Linked DNA regions of Homo sapiens. The protein of the gene in region 1 interacts with the protein of each later gene in a pairwise test. Each region holds a gene or a part of one and is shown in the gene's direction. Other genes may lie near its edges.

Region 1 (5,190 bases):
ACAGTTACTTTGCCAGTGAAGGTCACAGTTTTGATGTGCCCAAGTTTCAGTTAACACAGTACCATGCAAAGTAAGGACTACTTATCATTTCGCGTATGGTATAAAAATCTTATACTTCCTTTTCCATTTCCCCTCTACTAGCTTGGCCTTTTGTGCTACTGTTGTGATTCATGTTATTTCTACTTTTGTTGTTTCCACAATATGTTATGATTTTTACTTTAAACAGTATGATTTAAAAATAAGAAAAATATTTATCCACATTTACCAATTTTTGTAAATGTTCATTCCTTTGTGTATAGATTCAGATTTTTATCTGGTATCATTTTCCTTTTGCCTAAAGAACTTCTTTTAATATTTTTTGTAGTGTCAATCTGCTGATGATAAATCAATTCTTTCCGGCTCTGTGAACTAAGGGGATTGTTCTGCCTGCTCACTTTGGGCAATTCTTTTTCCAGCCTTAGGTAGTTTCCTCACATGCCTGCACTGATCAGTACTCAACTGAAGACTTGAGGAGGTTGCTTCTATAAATCTCTGAAGCTCTCTGTTTATACAGCTTTCTCCTCATTGTTACTCTGCTCTGCAAATTTTAGCTGTCTCGATCCCCCAAAACTCCCAACTCCTTTTCTACTCAGGCTGACTCCCAGGCTCCACCTAAGTTTCCTGTCTCTGTACTGTCACTTGGAAGCTTTCCAGGCAATAAGATGGGGCAGTCAGAGGGTATATGTTGTTCTCCTCCCTTTCCCCAGGGATCACTGCTCCATGCTGCCTGTAGTCCAGTGTCTGTAACCATTGTTTTCTGTATTTATTTTTTCTTTTTAGTTGTTTAAGGAGGGAGGATAAATCCAGTCCACGTTACTCTGCCCTTACTGAAAGCAGACATTTATCCATATATCATATTTTTATGAACAAAATTTTTCTTATAGTAAACATACAATTTTTGTATACTTTTTTCACTTAACAGTGTGTTAATAACATTTTCATGTTCTCCATACTATGAATAGTTTTGAGTAGTTTTGAGTTAGAAGTATATGAATGCATACAATATTTAGCCCTATGTTGATAATTAGGTTATTTTAGTTTTTCACTGTTAAAGCATCTGATGTTCTAAAAGTTCCCAATATCTTGATCATAGTGCTCCTGATATGGAAGATATATTGACTGAATCAGAAATTAAATTGGATGGTGTCAGACAAAAGATATTCCAGGTAGCCCAAGAGCTATCAGGGGAAGATATGCATCAGTTCCATCGAGCCATTACTACAGGTAAGTCTAGGTTTGTTTCAGGGTAATATATATTTTAAATGGTGTGCTACATGATTAACATGTGAGTTGCATGAATTTTAAGTGACACCTGATGAAATAATAATACTGGCTTTTAAAGAACTGCAACTTTGTAGTAATATAGAAGTAATCCAAAGGCAAGTTGGCTTTATGTTTTTTTTAACAGTGTAGTGATGGTCATTGATTGATTTTAATAAAGTATTTGAGAACACAGATTTAATAGGATGAACTTTATTCTTGAGTATGTAGGATGTGTTCAGACAGGGCACATCTCAGTGGTGGCTCACGCCTGTAATCCCAGCACTTTGGAAGGCCGAGGCGGGTGGATCACCAGGTCAGGAGTTCGAGACCAGCCTGGCCAAGATGGTGAAACCCCGACTCAACTAAAAAATACAAAACTTAGCCAGGTGCGTTGGCGGGCGCCTGTAATCCCAGCTACTCCGGAGGCTGAGGCAGGAGAATCACTTGAACCCGGGAGGTGGAGGTTGCAGTGAGCCGAGATCGCACCACTGCACTCCAGCCTGGGCGTCAGCACAAGACTCCGTCTCAAAAAAAAAAAATTTTGAGGGTATACTGGATCTTGGTGGTTATCATTATTTTCAAATAAATTGAATAAATGTATAAAGTGCTTGGTTCTTTCCTCTTTCTTCTTTTTCTAATGTGGGTTCATTGATAGGACAGATACTAGATAATTCAGATACAGGTTCAGTATCCCTTATCCAAAATGCTTGGGAACAGAAGTGTTTCAGATTTTGAGTGTTGAAATATTCACAGTTTACTGCTTGAGCATCTCTAATCCAGGAACCTGAAATGCTCCAATGAGCATTTCTTTTAAGCATGACCTTTGAGCATCGTGTCAGCACTCAAAACGTTTTGGATTTTGGACCATTTCGGATTTAGGATTTTTGGATTAGGAATGCTCAATATCAGTACCCTAAGATTTGCAGGAAGACTGGGAAATGAGTTTATTTGGTATCTGCTTAATACGAATACCCAGTTTTAGCCTAAACGTTTATAATTTCAGCACTTGTTTTTTCAGAAATGTTGATATGTCTTCTAATATGGGTAAGAGAAAGTACCAGCATACATTAGTTAAAACTGAGGGTGCATTGTTGGAAACTGAAGTGTAAAACAGTTCTGTGAGGAGTCATTATAACATATTACCAAATGAAATACAGTCTGCCATCATAATTTATTAATATCAGGGGTTTATTTGATTTCTTAATAATAGCACACACAATAAAGATGACTTCATGAATTTAGTTTGTTGTAAAGTGGCACAACCTGTAAAGTGTGACAGATTTGGCTGGAGTGGGAGACAGGATCAGAAGTACTGGTGGGAAGAAGGGTGAAGTAAAAGGTAAATCAAGCTTGGCAGAAAACATGAGAATATCTTTATAATAGTAGCTGTGACCATACTACAGATAGATTCATAGCAGGAAAATATTTCAGACAGAGTAGTCCTGCTATACATAAGTTAGGTATGCGTGTGTAATCTTGAGGGCTACTGGGTGGTAGTGTTGGTGGTGGTGGGGGACCAAGTTAGGTCTCTTAGTTTCTGGAAAGTGCTTGAACTGAAGCAGCAGTACAGTCTAAATGTCTGTATTAAACAGAAATCCAATTCTACAGCTTTTCCTAAGTATCCTATTAACCTGAATGACTAAAGGCAAGAGTTTGAATAACTTCCATAATCTTTATCATTTTTTCTATCACATCATCATGTAGTATGCCTATCTTGCAAAAATTCATGACAGTTAATAAATGTAATAAAAGCTGATCACAGTAGTTCTCACTTTGGACTTCAGTCTGCTTAAAACTTGTATTTTAATAAAAATTCACATATTTTCCCCAAAATGTTGGTGCCTCATGTGTGAAAAAGTTTTTCATGTTTAGACTTCTCAATTCCTTATTAGTGCATGATTAGGCTCTACTAATTGTGACAACATCAAGTTCCCCAAATATCTGTGGGACATATGGGACATTTCAGATTTGCTGTATTTGGCCCAGTAGTTCTATTTTGTATGTCCTCATGCATCAGTGAAGTATAAAGATAAAGAGTTTAAATAAGGGCCAAGGCCATATAGATAATGATACCAAAAGCAACCTAGAAAGCTGTACATTGTCTTACAGAACAGAGAAATGGAGAGAAAAAGGTGAAAGGGAAATATTCAGTAGATTATTTCCTAATGCAGGAAGGAAGTGCTGTACTCTTGGAAAGATAGGACATTAAGAAAATGGGAATGATAGATCTTCAGATTTTCCTACTTCACTGTATCATTGAGGATTATTATAAGCACAGTGGTCTCTTTTAGGCCTTCGTTTATGATTTGTAAGTTTCCTTTGAAGATAACTTACTCATGGATTAAAATAATGAAGGATTTTCTGTATCTTTTCTGTAAAAAGTCTTTAAAATGAGATTCTTTGAATTGAAGCAATAAAGATGTTTTTTCTTAAAGTTAAGGAATAAAGCAGTCAAGTAAAGAGGTGTCTAGGACCGAAAATTTTGCTGACAGATATTTTATTTGATAAAATAAGGTTATTTATAATTGGATTAGCATTAACAATATGATGCTTATGAATAGCTTGCTGCTTGTAATTGTTAAATGCTTGTTTTGGTATTACTCCAAATAGTTGTTCTTTTGACTTGAAGATAAAACAATTCTGGCAATGAACTAAAGGAGTTCTGTGCTTTTCCTCATTAAGAATAGTGCTAATGGCACGCAGAGCATTTCCCTAAGGGATACTTGTGTGAGCTCAAACATTGAGTATCCTAATAATTGAACAACAACAAAACGTCAGGTCTGTTTTCTACACATTTCTTATCAGAGTAGATTACAGATTGTCCCAAGGGATGGTTAAACAAATGAACAAATAATTAGCTGCTTGAAATAAGTCTTTAAAAAAAAATTTGTGTCCTGTCATTTTTTTTTTCCCTCTTGTTGAAAAATTAACAGTTTGGGGGAAATGTCCTCCATTTCAAAGAAGAAATACATGTTTTTTTCTTAAGTTTAGTTTATATCACTGATAATGATAAGAATTGTCATTTTTTGAGACATTTCGGTACACAAAACTAAGTTTATATCCTAATTAATGTTTTAATTCTTTTATCCAAGAATGTGAATGATGGGTAAAGTGGATGTTTTGGGCCAGTTAAGATATGTTTTTAGCCACTATTCTTTATATTCACAATCTCATAGGTTTTTGCAATACCTCTAAATCATAGATATTTTTACCACTTCACAGGCGGGGAGATTGAGGCTCACAAGTTATGCTCAGGGTCATAAGCTAGCACGTGGTACCATTGGTTTCTTCCCACATGGATTTCATTTACCTCTTAACTTTACAACCTAACTCCTAGCAAAGGCTTTATTTTGCTTACCCCAAATACTGAGGTTTTCCTCATAAACCCAGCACACACTGTGGCCCTTTTTTCATAGCACTTCTCAACTTCTAATGTGTAATCTCTTTATATATTATATTTCTTCATTATCTCTCTTTCCCTTACTAGAATGTAGACTCTATAGATCTCTACAAAGATTTCATTCCTGTTTTTCACTTTATATATCCCAGACACCTAATAAGTCTCCCGAAATACAAATGTTGAAAAGAATGAAGAACAAAACTAATTTTAAAAGGCTTTTTGTTGTTGTTCAGCCATATGCTTTATCTGATGATTTGCTTTCACAAGTTTATATTTTACTGTTTTTTGTTTCTTCCGAAAGAAAGCAAGTTTCCAGGAGCTATTTCTTAGACATACTAGCAGGAATAGGATCAATATTAATGTTTAGGGAAGTTCCAAAGCTACTATAGCAGTACAGAGAAATTCGATGTAGGTTCAGCATATTGGCAAAATTGTGAGTGCCCACTGGAAAAATGAACTATGATGTGAATCTCTGTAAGCTTTTGGAG
Region 2 (4,528 bases), on another chromosome or scaffold:
TGTGAACCACCACACCCAGGCTTTTTTTTTTTTTTTTTTTTAAGATGGAGTCTAGCTCTGTCACCCAGGCTGGAGTACAGTGGCATGGTCTCGGCTTACTGCAACCTTTGCCTCCTGGGTTCACGCGGTTCTTCTGCCTCAGCCTCCCAAGTAGCTGAGATTACAGGTGTGCGCCACCATGCCTGGCTAATTTTTGTATTCTTAGTAGAGACAGGATTTTGCCATGTTGTCCAGTCTGGTCTCAAACTACTGACCTCAGATGATCTACCCACCTCGGCCTCCCAAAGTGCTGGGATTATAGTCGTGAGCCACTGTGCCTGGCCAGTTTTTTTTTTTTTTTTCTTTTTTACATAGAAAGTATTTTTTTTCTATCTAGTAGTTCATCTTTTAAAATATTAGTCTTTAAAAAATATTCTTTGTGGCCACGTGTGGTGGCTCACACGTGTAATCCCAGCACTTTGGGAGGCTGAGGCAGGTGGATCACTTGAGATCAGTAGTTCGAGAGCAGCTTGACCACAGTGAAACCCTGTCTCTACTAAAAATACAAAATTAGCTGGGCGTCGTGGCGCACGCCTGTAATCCCATCTACTTGGGAGGCTGAGGCACTAGAATTGCTTGAACCCGGGAGACGGAGGTTGCAGTGAGCTGAGATCATGCCATTGTACTCTAGCCTGGGTAACGGAGCAAGACTCAGTCTCAAAATATATGTATATATAGAGACTGAGTAAATAATAACAACAAAATAAATAATATATATATTATAAATATACATAAATATATATATTTATGTTGATTTTGTTGTTGTTGTTGTTGCCAGAAAAGGTCTAGGTACTTTAAAATATATATTTTTAGCAACTGAACGTCTTAAGGAAAAAAAGGAACCTCCACCTAAATGTCATACCTTATATAAAAATTAACTTGGCCGGGTGCAGTGGCTCACGCCTGTAATCCCAGCACTTTGGGAGGCCAAGGCGGGTGGATCACTAGGTCAGGAGATCAAGACCATTCTGGCTAACACGGTCAAACCCCTTCTCTACTAAAAATAAAAAAAAAAATTAGGCGAGTTGGCGGGCACCTGTAGTCCCAGCTACTCAGGAGGCTGAGGCAGGAGAATGATGTGAACGCGGGAGGCAGAGCTTGCAGTGAGCTGAGATTGCGCCACTGCACACCAGCCTGGGCGACAGAGCAAGACTCCATCTCAAAAAAAAAAAAAAATTAACGTGATCATGGACTTAAACATAAAAAAAAAACTGTAAGCCTTTTAGAACTAAAACATAACCAGAATCTAGGGCTGGGTGAAGATTTATTTCTTTATTTATTTTTGAGACGAAGTCTCATTCTTGTCCCCCAGGCTGGAGTGCAATGGTGCAATCTCGGCTTAATGCAACCTCCGCCTCCCAGGTTCAAGTGATTCTCCTGCCTCAGCCTCCCGAGTAGCTGGGATTATAGGCGCCTGCCACCATGCCTGGCTAATTTTTGTACTTTTAGTAGACGGGGTTTCACCATGTTGGCCAGGCTGGTCTCGAACTCCTGTTCTCAGGTGATCTGCCCAACTTGGCCTCCCAAAGTTCTGGGATTACAGGCGTGAGCCACCAGGCCCGGCCTGGGTGAAGATTTATTTATTTAACATTCCTGAATTAGCAGAACTGTAGAGAAGGAGAATAGCTTAGAGATGAGGGATGGGGGAGGAAGTGGTGAGGCTATAAATATAGGTGTGACATGGGGTGGTTGGTGGTGATAGAACAGCTTTGTATCTTGAGTGTGGTGGTGTTTACATGAATCTACATGTGATAAAATTACATAGAACTATACATAAGCACAAATGAATGCCTTTAAAACTGGTGAAATCTGAATAAGCTCTGTGGATTGTACCAATATCAATTTACTGGTTTTGTTATTTTATTGTATTTATGAAAGACATTACTATTGGGGGAGACTGGGTGAAAAGTACATGCGACCTTCCTGTATGTATTTTTGCAACCTTCTGTGAACATTAATTATTTAAAAATTAAAATTTTTAAAAAGTATTTTTATGAGCAGCTTCTTGGCAACAGATTCTGATCTGATCCTGCCAATATTGTGGCGTGCCCTCAGGTGGGCCTCTTTTCCTCAGTGGACTTCAGTGTCTTTATCTGTAAATCTCATTCTGGACCAAATTGCTGAGGTCTTTTTTTTTTTTAATATGGAGTTTCGCTTTTGTCGCCCAGGCTGGAGTGCAATGGCGTGATCTCGACTCACTGCAACCCCAGGTTCAAGTGATTCTCCTGCCTCAGCCTCTTGAGTAGCTGGGATTACAGGCACGCGCCACCATGCCTGGCTAATTTTGTATTTTTCGTAGAGACGGGGTTTCACCATGTTGGTCAGGCTAGGTGACCTCAGGTGATCCACCCGCCTTGGCCTCCCAACATGCTGGGATTACAGGCATGAGCCACCGTGCCCAGCCCGAGGTTATTTTCACGTATAAAATTCCGTAATTTTTGGAGCCACTGCGCCTGGCCTAATAAATTATTAAATGGTTTTATGTAATGGATTGTCACATTATTTAGGAATTTTTGGTATTTACGTAAGAAAAACCCAGTTTGGCTTAAGGGACTGAGGGAAGTATTAATTAGTTCATGTAACTAGGAAGTCTAGGAGTGCATTTGGAATCACCTAGATCTAGGAACATCTACATTCTGCATCTTTCTGCTTGACATTATTTATTATTATTTTTCAAACATCTCCCCCACATAGGATTGATTATTTTTGACTCAATCTAGTGTCCCAAACATGGGGCTTTGCCTCTCCATTTCTCAGTTATTGGTTTCATTGTTGAGATAGATTAGGTGGCAAGATGGCTACTGGTAGCCCTGGACTCAGCATCTTCTTAGGTTAGCATTCCCAGATAGCTTCATCAGAAAAGTTCAAAGATATCCATGTCAGGTGTGTTAATGAAAATAAAAAAGCTGGGTGTGGAATCCCAGGACTTTGGGAGGCCAAGGCAGGTGGAACATTTGAGCTCAGGCATTCGAGACTAGCCTGCGCAACATGGGGAAACTCCATATTTACAAAAAAATTACCTGAACATGATGGCTCATGCCTACGGTCCCAGCTACTCAGAAGGCTGAGGTAGGAGGATCCTTGATCCTGGAAGGTCATGGCTGCAGTGAGCCTAGATAGCACGACTGTATGCCAGCACGGGTGATAGAGTAAGACCCTGTCTCAAAAAAAAAAAAAAGAAAAGAAAAAAGGCGGGGTGCGGTGGCTCACGCCTGTAATCCCAGCACTTTGGAAGGCCAAGGCGGGTGGATCACGAGGTCAAGAGATCAAGACCATCCTGGCTAACATGGTGAAACACCATCTCTACTAAAAATACAAAAAAAATTATCCTGGCGTGGTGGAGGGTTCCTGTAGTCCCAGCTACTTGGGAGGCTGAGGCAGGAGAATGGCATGAACCCGGGAGGCAGAGCTTGCAGTGAGCCGAGATTGCGCTACTGCACTCCAGCCTGGGCAACAGAGTGAGACTCCATCTCAAAAAAAAAAAAAAAGAAAAAGAAAAAGAAAAAAAATAGGCCAGGCATAGTGGCTCATGCCTGTAATTGTAGCACTTTGGGAGCCTGAGGTAGGAGGCTTGCCTGAGACTAGGAGTTTGGGACCAGCCTGGGCAACATGACAAAACCCTGTCTCTACAAAAAAATACAAAAATTAGCCAGGTGTGGTGGCGTGCGCCAGTGGTCCCAGCTACTTGTGAGACTGAGGCAGGAGGATCAATTGAAGCTGGAAGGTCCAGGCTGTAATGATCCGTGATCACGCCACTATACTCCAGCCTGGGAAACAGAGTGAGATCTTGTTTCAAAAAAAAAAAAAAAAAAAAACTTAGAAAAGTTCAAAGATGAACTCTGGCCTTCAGGTCATATTTTTCATTCCTCAAGTCCATACTGGGTGTAGGAGGATAGCAGACTTTTTTTTTTTTTTTTTTTGAGACGGAGTCTCTGTATCCCAGGCTAGAGTGCAGTCGTACGATCTCTGCGCACTGCAAGCTCCACCTCCCAGGTTCACGCCATTCTCCCGCCTCAGCCTCCCGAGTAGCTGGGACTACAGGCGCCCGCCACCATGCCTAGGCACGTGCCACCATGCCCGGCTAACTTGTGTATGTTTGGTAGAGACAGAGTATGTCTTGTGTATGTTTAGTAGAGACAGGGTTTAGTAGAGACAGGGTATGTCTTGTGTATGTTTAGTAGAGACAGGGTTTCACCATGTTGGTCAGGATAGTCTCAAACTCCTGACCTTGTAATCCGCCCACCACAGCCTCCCAAAGTGCTGGGGAAAAAGGTGCCTGGCCTTTTTTTTGAGATGGAGTCTTGCTCTGTCGCCCAGGCTGGAGTGCAGTGGCGCGATCTCAGCTCACTACAGCCTCCGCCTCCTGGGTTCAAGGGATTCTCCTGCCTTAGCCTGCCTCCTCAGTAGCTGGGATTATAGGTGCGTGCCACCACGCCTGGCTAATTTTTGTGTTTTTAGTAGGGACGGGGTTTCACCATGTTGGTCAGGA
Region 3 (4,528 bases), about 14 Mb from region 1:
AATCACAATGTGTGTTGTTTTTAGGTTATTAAAATGAAACGACAAAAGTTGAAAGCTGTTATAAGGAACTTGCAAAAGCCTGAAATTATTGACTGTTGGAGACTATACATGATTGTAGAGACTATATAGACTATGGGTCAGCAAACTATAACCAGCTATAACCTGATTCTATAAATAAAACTTTATTAGAACACAGCCATACCCATTTATTTATGTATTGCTTGTGGCTATTTTTGCATTATAGTGGCAAGTTGAGTAGTTTTGGGAGACCCAATGGCCTGCAAAGCCTAGAATATTTACTAGCAGGCCAGTTACATAAAAGCCTACTCCTGCTGTAGGCTCTAGAAGCTCTGTATGACTGTTGAGAATATTTCAATCCCTAGGTGCCTCTAGATCTCGATTTTAGAAATGATTGCCTGTGGTCTTCATAAGACGGGTGCAAATCTGAATTGCCTGTGATGTTTAAAAAATAAAACCAGATACCTTGGCTGTATGTCACCCCAACTAATTTAAAATCTTTGGGAATTGGGTTTTAAAAGGACAGGTATAATTTATAAAAATTCCCAAAGAATGCTTATGCTTATTCTTGCTGACTACTGGATAATTTTCATACTGGTAATATAGTTTAATGCTCTTAAAAAAGGAAAGCCTAAGAGATTGCTTCAGAATGAAGTAATGATGGGCCCTTTGAAACCAGTGAGGCTCCAATTTGAATGCGAATGTAGTTTGTGCTTCACTGGGTTAAGAGATTAGTGTGGCCTAAATAAATGCATGGTGTTGGTTAAACTTTCACGTATATTACTAATCCTGAAACTACCTGTCTGTCTTTCTAACTGCCTCTTATATGACAGTGACTGGTTAGGGCACGTGGTGAATAGAAGATTTCATGTTTCTTTTTTTACTTAGAGATTAGTGGGCGAAGAGGGGACTGAGAAAGTTCTTTCTGTATCTGCTGTAGGAAAACTGGCTCTAGAAAAGGGGTAGGAGTGGGCCAGCGGATAGGGATTTAAACAGAACTTTTCCATAATTATACAGAAAAATATAAAAATACTGGGATCTTTCATTGCTCATAAGCTTATTCTATCTTGGAAGTAATTCCTATGTTTAATAAAAGAACTTATATAAGAAGAGGCCTAAAATGAATCAATATTTAAAACTGTAATATCTTGGATAGGAAAATTAGCTTTGAAACATTTTGTAATCATTAATTTTTGTCGAATTTAGAATGAATTGTCTGTTATAGAAAATGAGGTTACTGTGGTTAAGACTGACTATTTTCTTTTTTCTTTCTCTAAAAAATGAAGGCATTTCAGTAGAACCATGGAGGAGCTGGTTCATGACCTTGTCTCAGCATTGGAAGAGAGCTCAGAGCAAGCTCGAGGTGGATTTGCTGAAACAGGAGACCATTCTCGAAGTATATCTTGCCCTCTGAAACGCCAGGCAAGGAAAAGGAGAGGGAGAAAACGGAGGTCGTATAATGTGCATCACCCGTGGGAGACTGGTCACTGCTTAAGTGAAGGCTCTGATTCTAGTTTAGAAGAACCAAGCAAGGACTATAGAGAGAATCACAATAATAATAAAAAAGATCACAGTGACTCTGATGACCAAATGTTAGTAGCAAAGCGCAGGCCGTCATCAAACTTAAATAATAATGTTCGAGGGAAAAGACCTCTATGGCATGAGTCTGATTTTGCTGTGGACAATGTTGGGAATAGAACTCTGCGCAGGAGGAGAAAGGTAAAACGCATGGCAGTAGATCTCCCACAGGACATCTCTAACAAACGGACAATGACCCAGCCACCTGAGGGTTGTAGAGATCAGGACATGGACAGTGATAGAGCCTACCAGTATCAAGAATTTACCAAGAACAAAGTCAAAAAAAGAAAGTTGAAAATAATCAGACAAGGACCAAAAATCCAAGATGAAGGAGTAGTTTTAGAAAGTGAGGAAACGAACCAGACCAATAAGGACAAAATGGAATGTGAAGAGCAAAAAGTCTCAGATGAGCTCATGAGTGAAAGGTGACTTTTATATTCTCTAAATATAAAAATATTTATCTCCAGTGTTTGTGGTTGAATGTTTTATATTTTAATTAATTCTATTTTAAAATAATTATAAATTGTAATAATGATAGTGATATTACTGTTTAGCTATGGTTATATTTCCTTATACTTTATGATGTTTAGCACAAAGCAAAATTGCTTGTTTGATTTACACAAAGTCTTTTGATTGTATTATAATGACTCAATTTTCAGCTACAAGGAGGAAAGGAAATGGATTTTCAGTGGAAAAGAATGTGCTTTTGAATAACAGCACGTTTGTAACTCAGAATTGGATATATAATTATATGTTTAATTATAGACCTTTAGCTTTTGGTACTTTATAGAGTGTCACAATTCATTAATCTATCCTGATTCTTGAACATCAAAAGTTTATACCACTTCGACATGTCTGTGGCTTGACATAAAAAATCTGGAGCTTTCTAGGAATTCTGATCACTTATGAATTTTAAAACCCAATTTATAGTCTAGAAACACCTGGTTTTGTCATTAGAAAAATAGGAAAAACAATGGTCCTGTGGTAGTAAATCTAATCTGTCAATAATTGTTAAGTACTATTTTGACAGCATCAAAAGGTAAGTGATCATTTTTCTTTTATACTGAAATGATGAAGTGATGCTACTTGCAAGAAATGAGAATGTATTAACACTTTTTCCTTTTAGGCATGGGTCCGCAAAACCGAATGCTGAACTATGAGCCAGAAAAAAACAGTCTGTAAATATGGCCTGAGAAAGAGTAATTGATTTTTAATTTATAGGGCTGCTATCTTTTTTTTTTTTTCGAGATAGAGACTCACTCTGTTTCCCAGGCTGGAGTGCAAGGGTGTGATCTCAGCTCATTGCAACCTCCACTTCCTGGGTTCAGGTGATTCTCCTGCCTCAGCCTCCGGAGTAGCTGGGATTACCTGTGTGCACCACCATGCCTGGCGAATTTTTTTTGTATTTTTAGTAGAGACGGGGTTTCACCATGTTGGCCAGGCTGGTCTTCAACCCCTGACCTCAAGTGATCCACCCACCTTGGCCTCCCAAGGGCTGGGATCATTTTAATCATGTGAATTGTGGTGAGCTATCAATCTTTTATTTGGTTTTTATTTTTTATTTTGTTTTTTTGGGGTTTTTTTGCTTGTAAATGAGTGGGACCTGGTAAAAGTTTATGGAATTATCCTTTTATTAGACATGGTGTGCTAGTCATATAATTTTTCTAAAGAAGTAAAAATTACTTACATTAAAAAATTGTGGCTGAGCATGGCGGCTCATGCCTTTACTCCCAGCACTTTGGTAGGCTGAGGCTGGTGGATCACCTGAGGTCAGGAGTTTGAGACCAGCCAGACCAGTATGGTGAAACCCCGTCTCTAGCAAAAATAGAAAAATTAGCCGAGTGTGGTGATGTGCGCCGAGTCCCAGCTACTCAGGAGGCTGAGGCAGGAGAATTGCTTGAACCTGGGAGGCGGAGATTACAGACATCCAAGATCGTGCCACTGCGACAGAGCAAGACTCTATCTCAAAAAAAAAAAAAAAAAAAAGTTTCCAGAGGGCTTTGAAAAGTTTATGGTATCTGTTTTTCTTGCAAGAAAATTGTCATTCTTATATGGAAATAAGTATTATTTGTATTAGGCCATTGTGACTTAAGACCATTCAACCTTACTTGAAAGTAATTGTCTGACTCAATTACCGGGAGGGAGAGTATGTGGCAGCTGATATAACATACTCAATTCTGGATTATTTACAATTAGATTACCTGCTTTTTGGATTCATTGTGCAAGCTCCCCCCCTTTTTTTTAGTTCTCCTTTTATTGATCTGCTTTTTTATAGGACATGTAACTGGTAATGGATATGAGATCAAACTCTCATTTTTCATTTCTTTTCATTGTAAAAAGTATTTGAGTATCTACTAGGCATGAACAGGCTACCTAGCAGTCCACAAACAGCCCAGGTACACGTTTTCAGAGTATGTTTTTACTCTTGAATAAATGTTAAAAAATATATTTTCTCTGATTTGAAACTTATTTATAAACTATTTTCTGTTGTCACTTAAAAGTTAGGTGCAAATTCCTTCTGTGCAAAGATTGCTAAATATTTAAGGTATTTTGGTAACAAGTATAAGCGTTTTCAAGACTACTTCCAAAGCTTTCCTACTACAAAAAGCTTTATATTTCCTTGGGGTTGATTTATAAATAAGAGAAACTTCAGTGTGGGGGGCTGTGTGTGTGTGTCAGATTTAACAAACATTGATGATTAACTACAATTTACTCTTCACTGGTGGCACCTGGACTAATAATGGAGACTCTGTTCTCAACAGCTGCATAGTCTGGGATAGCCAGGCAAGCAAATGATGAAAATGAAATGTGCTGAGTGGAAAGTATTAGTGAGGGAAGACTTGCTAAGGGAACTGTGCTTTAAAGCAAGTAGTAAGACTTGTTCAGGAATTGAGGAAGTCAAGAGAAGAGAGGGAAATGGCATTCATAGGTA
Region 4 (4,528 bases), on another chromosome or scaffold:
TCATGCCTGTAATCCCAGCACTTTGGGAGGCCAACTAGGGCGGATCATTTGAGGTCAGGAGTTCCAGATCAGCCTGGCCAACATGGTGAAACCCCATACAAAAATTAGTCAGGCATGGTGGTGAGTGTCTGTAGTCCCAGCTACTCAGAAGGCTGAAGCAGGAGAATTGCTTGAAGCCAGGGGCCGGAGGTTGCAGTGAGCCAAGATCACGCCACTGCACTCCAGCCTAGGTGACAAACCGAGACTTCATCTTAAAAAAAAAAAAAAAAACACAAGATTATGATTTACCTGCTTACTCAAATGGGTTCAAGTTCGCAGGTAGCTGGAGCCTGTCCCAGCAGCTGAGGGTGTAAGGAGGGAACCAATCATGGGCAGGACTTCATCCCATGGCAGGGCACGCTCACTCATCTACCCACACTCAGACCAGGACCATGTAGTCAGCCCCATTCACCTAAGTATATGTTTTCAGGATGTGGGAGGAAACCCGAGTATCCAGATGAACTGGATATCATCCAGGCAGACATGGGGAGAATGTGCACACTCCATACAGACAGTGACCTCAGTCAGGAATCAGGGTTTCTTATCAATGATATAATGAAAAGACATTGGACCGGCTGGGCGGTGTGGCTTACACCTGTAATCCTAGCACTTTGGGAGGCTGAGGCGGGTGGATCACGAGGTCAGAAGTTCAAGACCAGCCTGGCCAAGATGGCGAAACCCCGTCTCTATTAAAAATACAAAAATTGGCCAGGCACGGTGGCTCACGCCTGTAATCCCAGCACTTTGGGAGGCTGAGGCGGGTGGATCATAAGGTCAGAATTTCAAGACCAGCCTGGCCAGGATGGTGAAACCCCATCTCTACTAAAAATATAAAAATTAGCCAGGTGTGGTGGTGGGTGCCTGTAATCCCAGCTACTCGGGAGGCTGAGGCAGAGAATTGCTTGAACCCAGGAGGCAGAGGTTGCAGTGAGCCGAGATCACACCACTGCACACCAGCCTGGAAGACAGAGTGAGACTCTGTCTCAAAAAAAAAAAAAAAAAAAATATATATATATATATATATATACACACACAAAAAAAAATTAGCTGGGCATGGTGGCACATGCCTGTAATCCCAGCTGCTTGGGAGGCTGAGGCAGGAGAATTGCTTGAACCAGGGAGGCGGAGGTTGCAGTGAACTGAGATCGCACCAGTGCACTCCAGCCTGGGCAACAGAGTGAGACTCTGTCTCAAAAAAAAAAAAGATATCGTACCAAGTGATGTTACTGAAGGACCTGCTGTATTGCTTAGGAATGAGCCCCTAGATATTTTTTGTAGAGAAAAGAAAACCAAGGTTCTGAATAGTATGACCTATACAGTTTGCTACTTTTATGTAAAAAAAAAAAGGGAGGGAAGGATAAGCCTGGTACAGTGGCTTATGCCTATAATCCCAGCACTTTGGGAGGTGGGTGGATTGCCTGAGGTCAGGAGTTCAAGACCAGCCTGGCTAACATGGTGAAACCCCATCTCTACTAAAAATATAAAAAAATTAGCCAGGCATGGTGGCGCACGCCTGTAGTCCCAGCTAGCCGGGAGGCTGAGGTAGGAGAATCGCTTGAACCCGGGAGGTGGAGGTTGCAGTGAGCTGAGATCACACCGCTGAACTCTATCTAGCCTGGGTGATGGAGCAAGACTCAGTTTCTGGGGGAACAAAAGTGGGGGAAGGATGAACATAGATATTTGCATCAGGAAACAAGGGTCATACACAAAACTAGTAAGGCTGGTTCCCTGATTTTGTGGGAGTATCTAGTAGTAAATATTTTGTTTGATTTGTATTTAAAAATGGGCTGCTTTTTCTCCCATTTGGCTCCTTTGTCCTTCCTTGTAAGGTGACCTGTTACACTGATTCTGTCCATGCCTCCCCATGACACTAATGACAACAGCCAACACTTAGTGTCCATACCATGCCAGGCACTGTCATAGATGTTCTGCCTGCCCTGGCTCATTTTGGCAAAGGAATGGGGGACAAGGGCGGAGAGAGACTTACATCTGCTGTGCATTTTACATTTGAGCTGTATATTACCTTTCAAAAATAATTTTCTGATTAGTTCCTGCCCCACCTGGTGGTTGTGGGAACTAGACGAGCGTCCGTGCGAAGGGCATGCTCTTCTCCAGGGTCACTTCTGAATCAGGCTGGAGCCTGGCATGCCCCATCAGGCAGAGTAGGGAAGGGCCCTCTTGGATTCCAGTGCAAGGCGTCCTCAGTGTGTGCAGTGCCCATCTAGGTGGTATTTCCCAGCGTGTGAGCTGAGTAAGATGAGCCCGCAGCCATTCCCCCTTTGCAGGCTCTCCACCAGCATCTCCTCTTACCATCTGTTTGCCTCCTGACTAAGGAAACAAGGCCATTTCTGCCCACATTTAAGCTTTGAGGTTGGCCCAGTGCACTCCGGGTGGCTGCCGACATCCTGGGCATTCACGGTTCCGTTACCTCCCCTTCCACATCCTCCCAGCATTGGTCTTCCTCCTGTTGGCTTTTTGGCCCCCTACCCCATCCCACCAGGGCTCTCAGCATCAACTTTTGCTGGCATGCTTAGGCTGAGGGTGATGTCCCTCTGTTGTTCCTGAACCTCTTTGTGTTGGAATGGTCCTGTTTGCAGATTCAGCTCCCAAATCATCATCCTTCCCTGAGTGCTCGGCCTGTGCTCCCTCGCCTGCCTGCCTGCTGATTGGCTCTTGCTCTCATGTGCACACATGCTGTGTTACACTTACCCTACCACTGTTACCCACCAGCTTTCCACAGCTTCCCTCCATCACCACGTGCAGCATAACCCAGGCCAGCCTGAGGAGAGTTGCTGATCTCTTTCTCTTTGGTCACTGGCCATCCTTGGAACAAGTAGCTCTCACCTGTTCCACAGGCTGGATGTGGTTTCTGTGCTTTGAGAGGGTCCCAGCCTGGGCAACATGGTGAAACCCTGTCTCTACTAAAAATAGAAAAATTAGCCAGGCGTGGTGGCATGTGCCTGTAGTCCCAGCTACTCAGGAGGCTGAGGTGGGAGGATCACCTGAGCCCAGGGAGGTCGAGGCTGCAGTGAGCTGAGATCATGCCACTGCACTCCAGCCTGGGTGACAGAGTAAGACCCTGTCTCAGAAAAAAGAAAAAAAGAAAAGAAAAGAGAGGGTCCTGCCTCCTCTGCCAGGCAGAGCCAAGCATCTTGGAGGGCATTCTTCCAGTGCCCAGCTGAGGCCTGGGCATGCCCTGACTTGCTGTTCTCTAGGATAGAACAGTCAGAGCCAGGCCTGAGTTGCTTGCTGAGGGGACCGTTACGACAACAGAACCACTATGGGCCTGTGCACAGGAAGGGTCCCACCAGGCCTCTTACCCAGTGGGGTTGGGCTAAAAGGGCAAAAAGGTGACTTAGGCAGGACCCCAGCCTTGATTGGACTTTGGACCTGTGTTGACCCTCTTGGGTTTCTGCTGGTGGGGATGGCACCATCCACCATGAAAGCAGAGGGGAAATGGTGTGCTTCTGTGTCCCCTTTGGAAAGGTCTGGGGCCAGGGAAAAGCCGGAACTCGGTGCTCCTCTGAGGAAGTAGTCACCATTTGTTTCCTTTTTTCTTTGACCAAAAATATGTTTGCCTTAATTGTTAAAGAGCAAGACTTCCTGAACACAGATGTAGAAGATTTATATTTTTCTCTCCCTTCCCCTGTTTTGTAGGAAGCTGAAGTCTTCAGCAGAACCCTGACCTAGGTAGGGAGTCTCAATGGCCCTGGGTGAAGAAAAGGCAGAAGCGGAAGCATCTGAAGACACAAAGGCCCAGTCCTATGGGAGAGGGAGCTGCAGGGAGCGGGAGCTGGACATCCCAGGGCCCATGAGTGGGGAGCAGCCCCCACGCCTGGAAGCTGAGGGAGGGCTCATCTCCCCTGTATGGGGGGCAGAAGGGATACCTGCCCCTACTTGCTGGATTGGGACTGACCCTGGCGGCCCCTCTAGAGCCCACCAGCCACAGGCCAGTGATGCCAACAGAGAGCCCGTAGCTGAGAGGTCTGAGCCTGCACTCAGTGGCCTGCCTCCTGCCACCATGGGGTCTGGAGACCTTCTGCTCTCCGGGGAAAGCCAGGTAGGTACTAAGGCAAGACTGTAGATGGACCCATTGCTGTCCTTTGGGAGTTTGTTCAGGATTTCCTCACCATCTTGCATCCTTTCCTTGCTACTGTGCAGGGTGAGGAATTGGAGGGGCCTGAGTATGATGATTTCTGTTTTGCGGGTTCAGCTAGAGAGCTGGGCCTCAGGACCGGCCGGGGGGACTGTCCACGGTTATCTCCTGTTCCTCAAGAGTGACTGGTGACTTTTTAAGGACCAGGGATTATAGGCCAAGAGGCTGCTGCCCAGAGGTCCAGGCCAGGGGAATTCTGGCAAGGAGAGCCCTGCCGTGTTTCTGACTTGGTGATTAAAGGCTTTAGGGGTACCCTGAAGAGACTTGGGAAAGGAGTGTCCAGGGCTTTGGGCTCCTGGGGGCTCTGAACCTAAATCCTCTTCAGACCCAAGG

The links. Proteins that work in one complex are often made in the same cells at the same time.
Region 2: the proteins of TSNAX (region 1) and GLE1 interact in binary tests that used the Homo sapiens proteins (3 or more experiments, as listed by UniProt).
Region 3: the proteins of TSNAX (region 1) and GPATCH2 interact in binary tests that used the Homo sapiens proteins (3 or more experiments, as listed by UniProt).
Region 4: the proteins of TSNAX (region 1) and CEP68 interact in binary tests that used the Homo sapiens proteins (3 or more experiments, as listed by UniProt).

The regions. Positions count from the first base shown.
Region 1 is NC_000001.11:231,541,349-231,546,538, forward strand, and holds part of TSNAX (translin-associated protein X), read left to right. Parts: intron 1-1,132; coding exon 1,133-1,263; intron 1,264-5,190.
Region 2 is NC_000009.12:128,510,506-128,515,033, forward strand, and holds part of GLE1 (mRNA export factor GLE1), read left to right. Parts: intron 1-4,528. UniProt on the Homo sapiens protein: Required for the export of mRNAs containing poly(A) tails from the nucleus into the cytoplasm. May be involved in the terminal step of the mRNA transport through the nuclear pore complex (NPC).
Region 3 is NC_000001.11:217,617,276-217,621,803, reverse strand, and holds part of GPATCH2 (G patch domain-containing protein 2), read left to right. Parts: intron 1-1,304; coding exon 1,305-2,021; intron 2,022-4,528. UniProt on the Homo sapiens protein: Enhances the ATPase activity of DHX15 in vitro.
Region 4 is NC_000002.12:65,065,703-65,070,230, forward strand, and holds part of CEP68 (centrosomal protein of 68 kDa), read left to right. Parts: intron 1-3,696; 5' UTR 3,697-3,742; coding exon 3,743-4,099; intron 4,100-4,528. UniProt on the Homo sapiens protein: Involved in maintenance of centrosome cohesion, probably as part of a linker structure which prevents centrosome splitting. Required for localization of CDK5RAP2 to the centrosome during interphase. Contributes to CROCC/rootletin filament formation.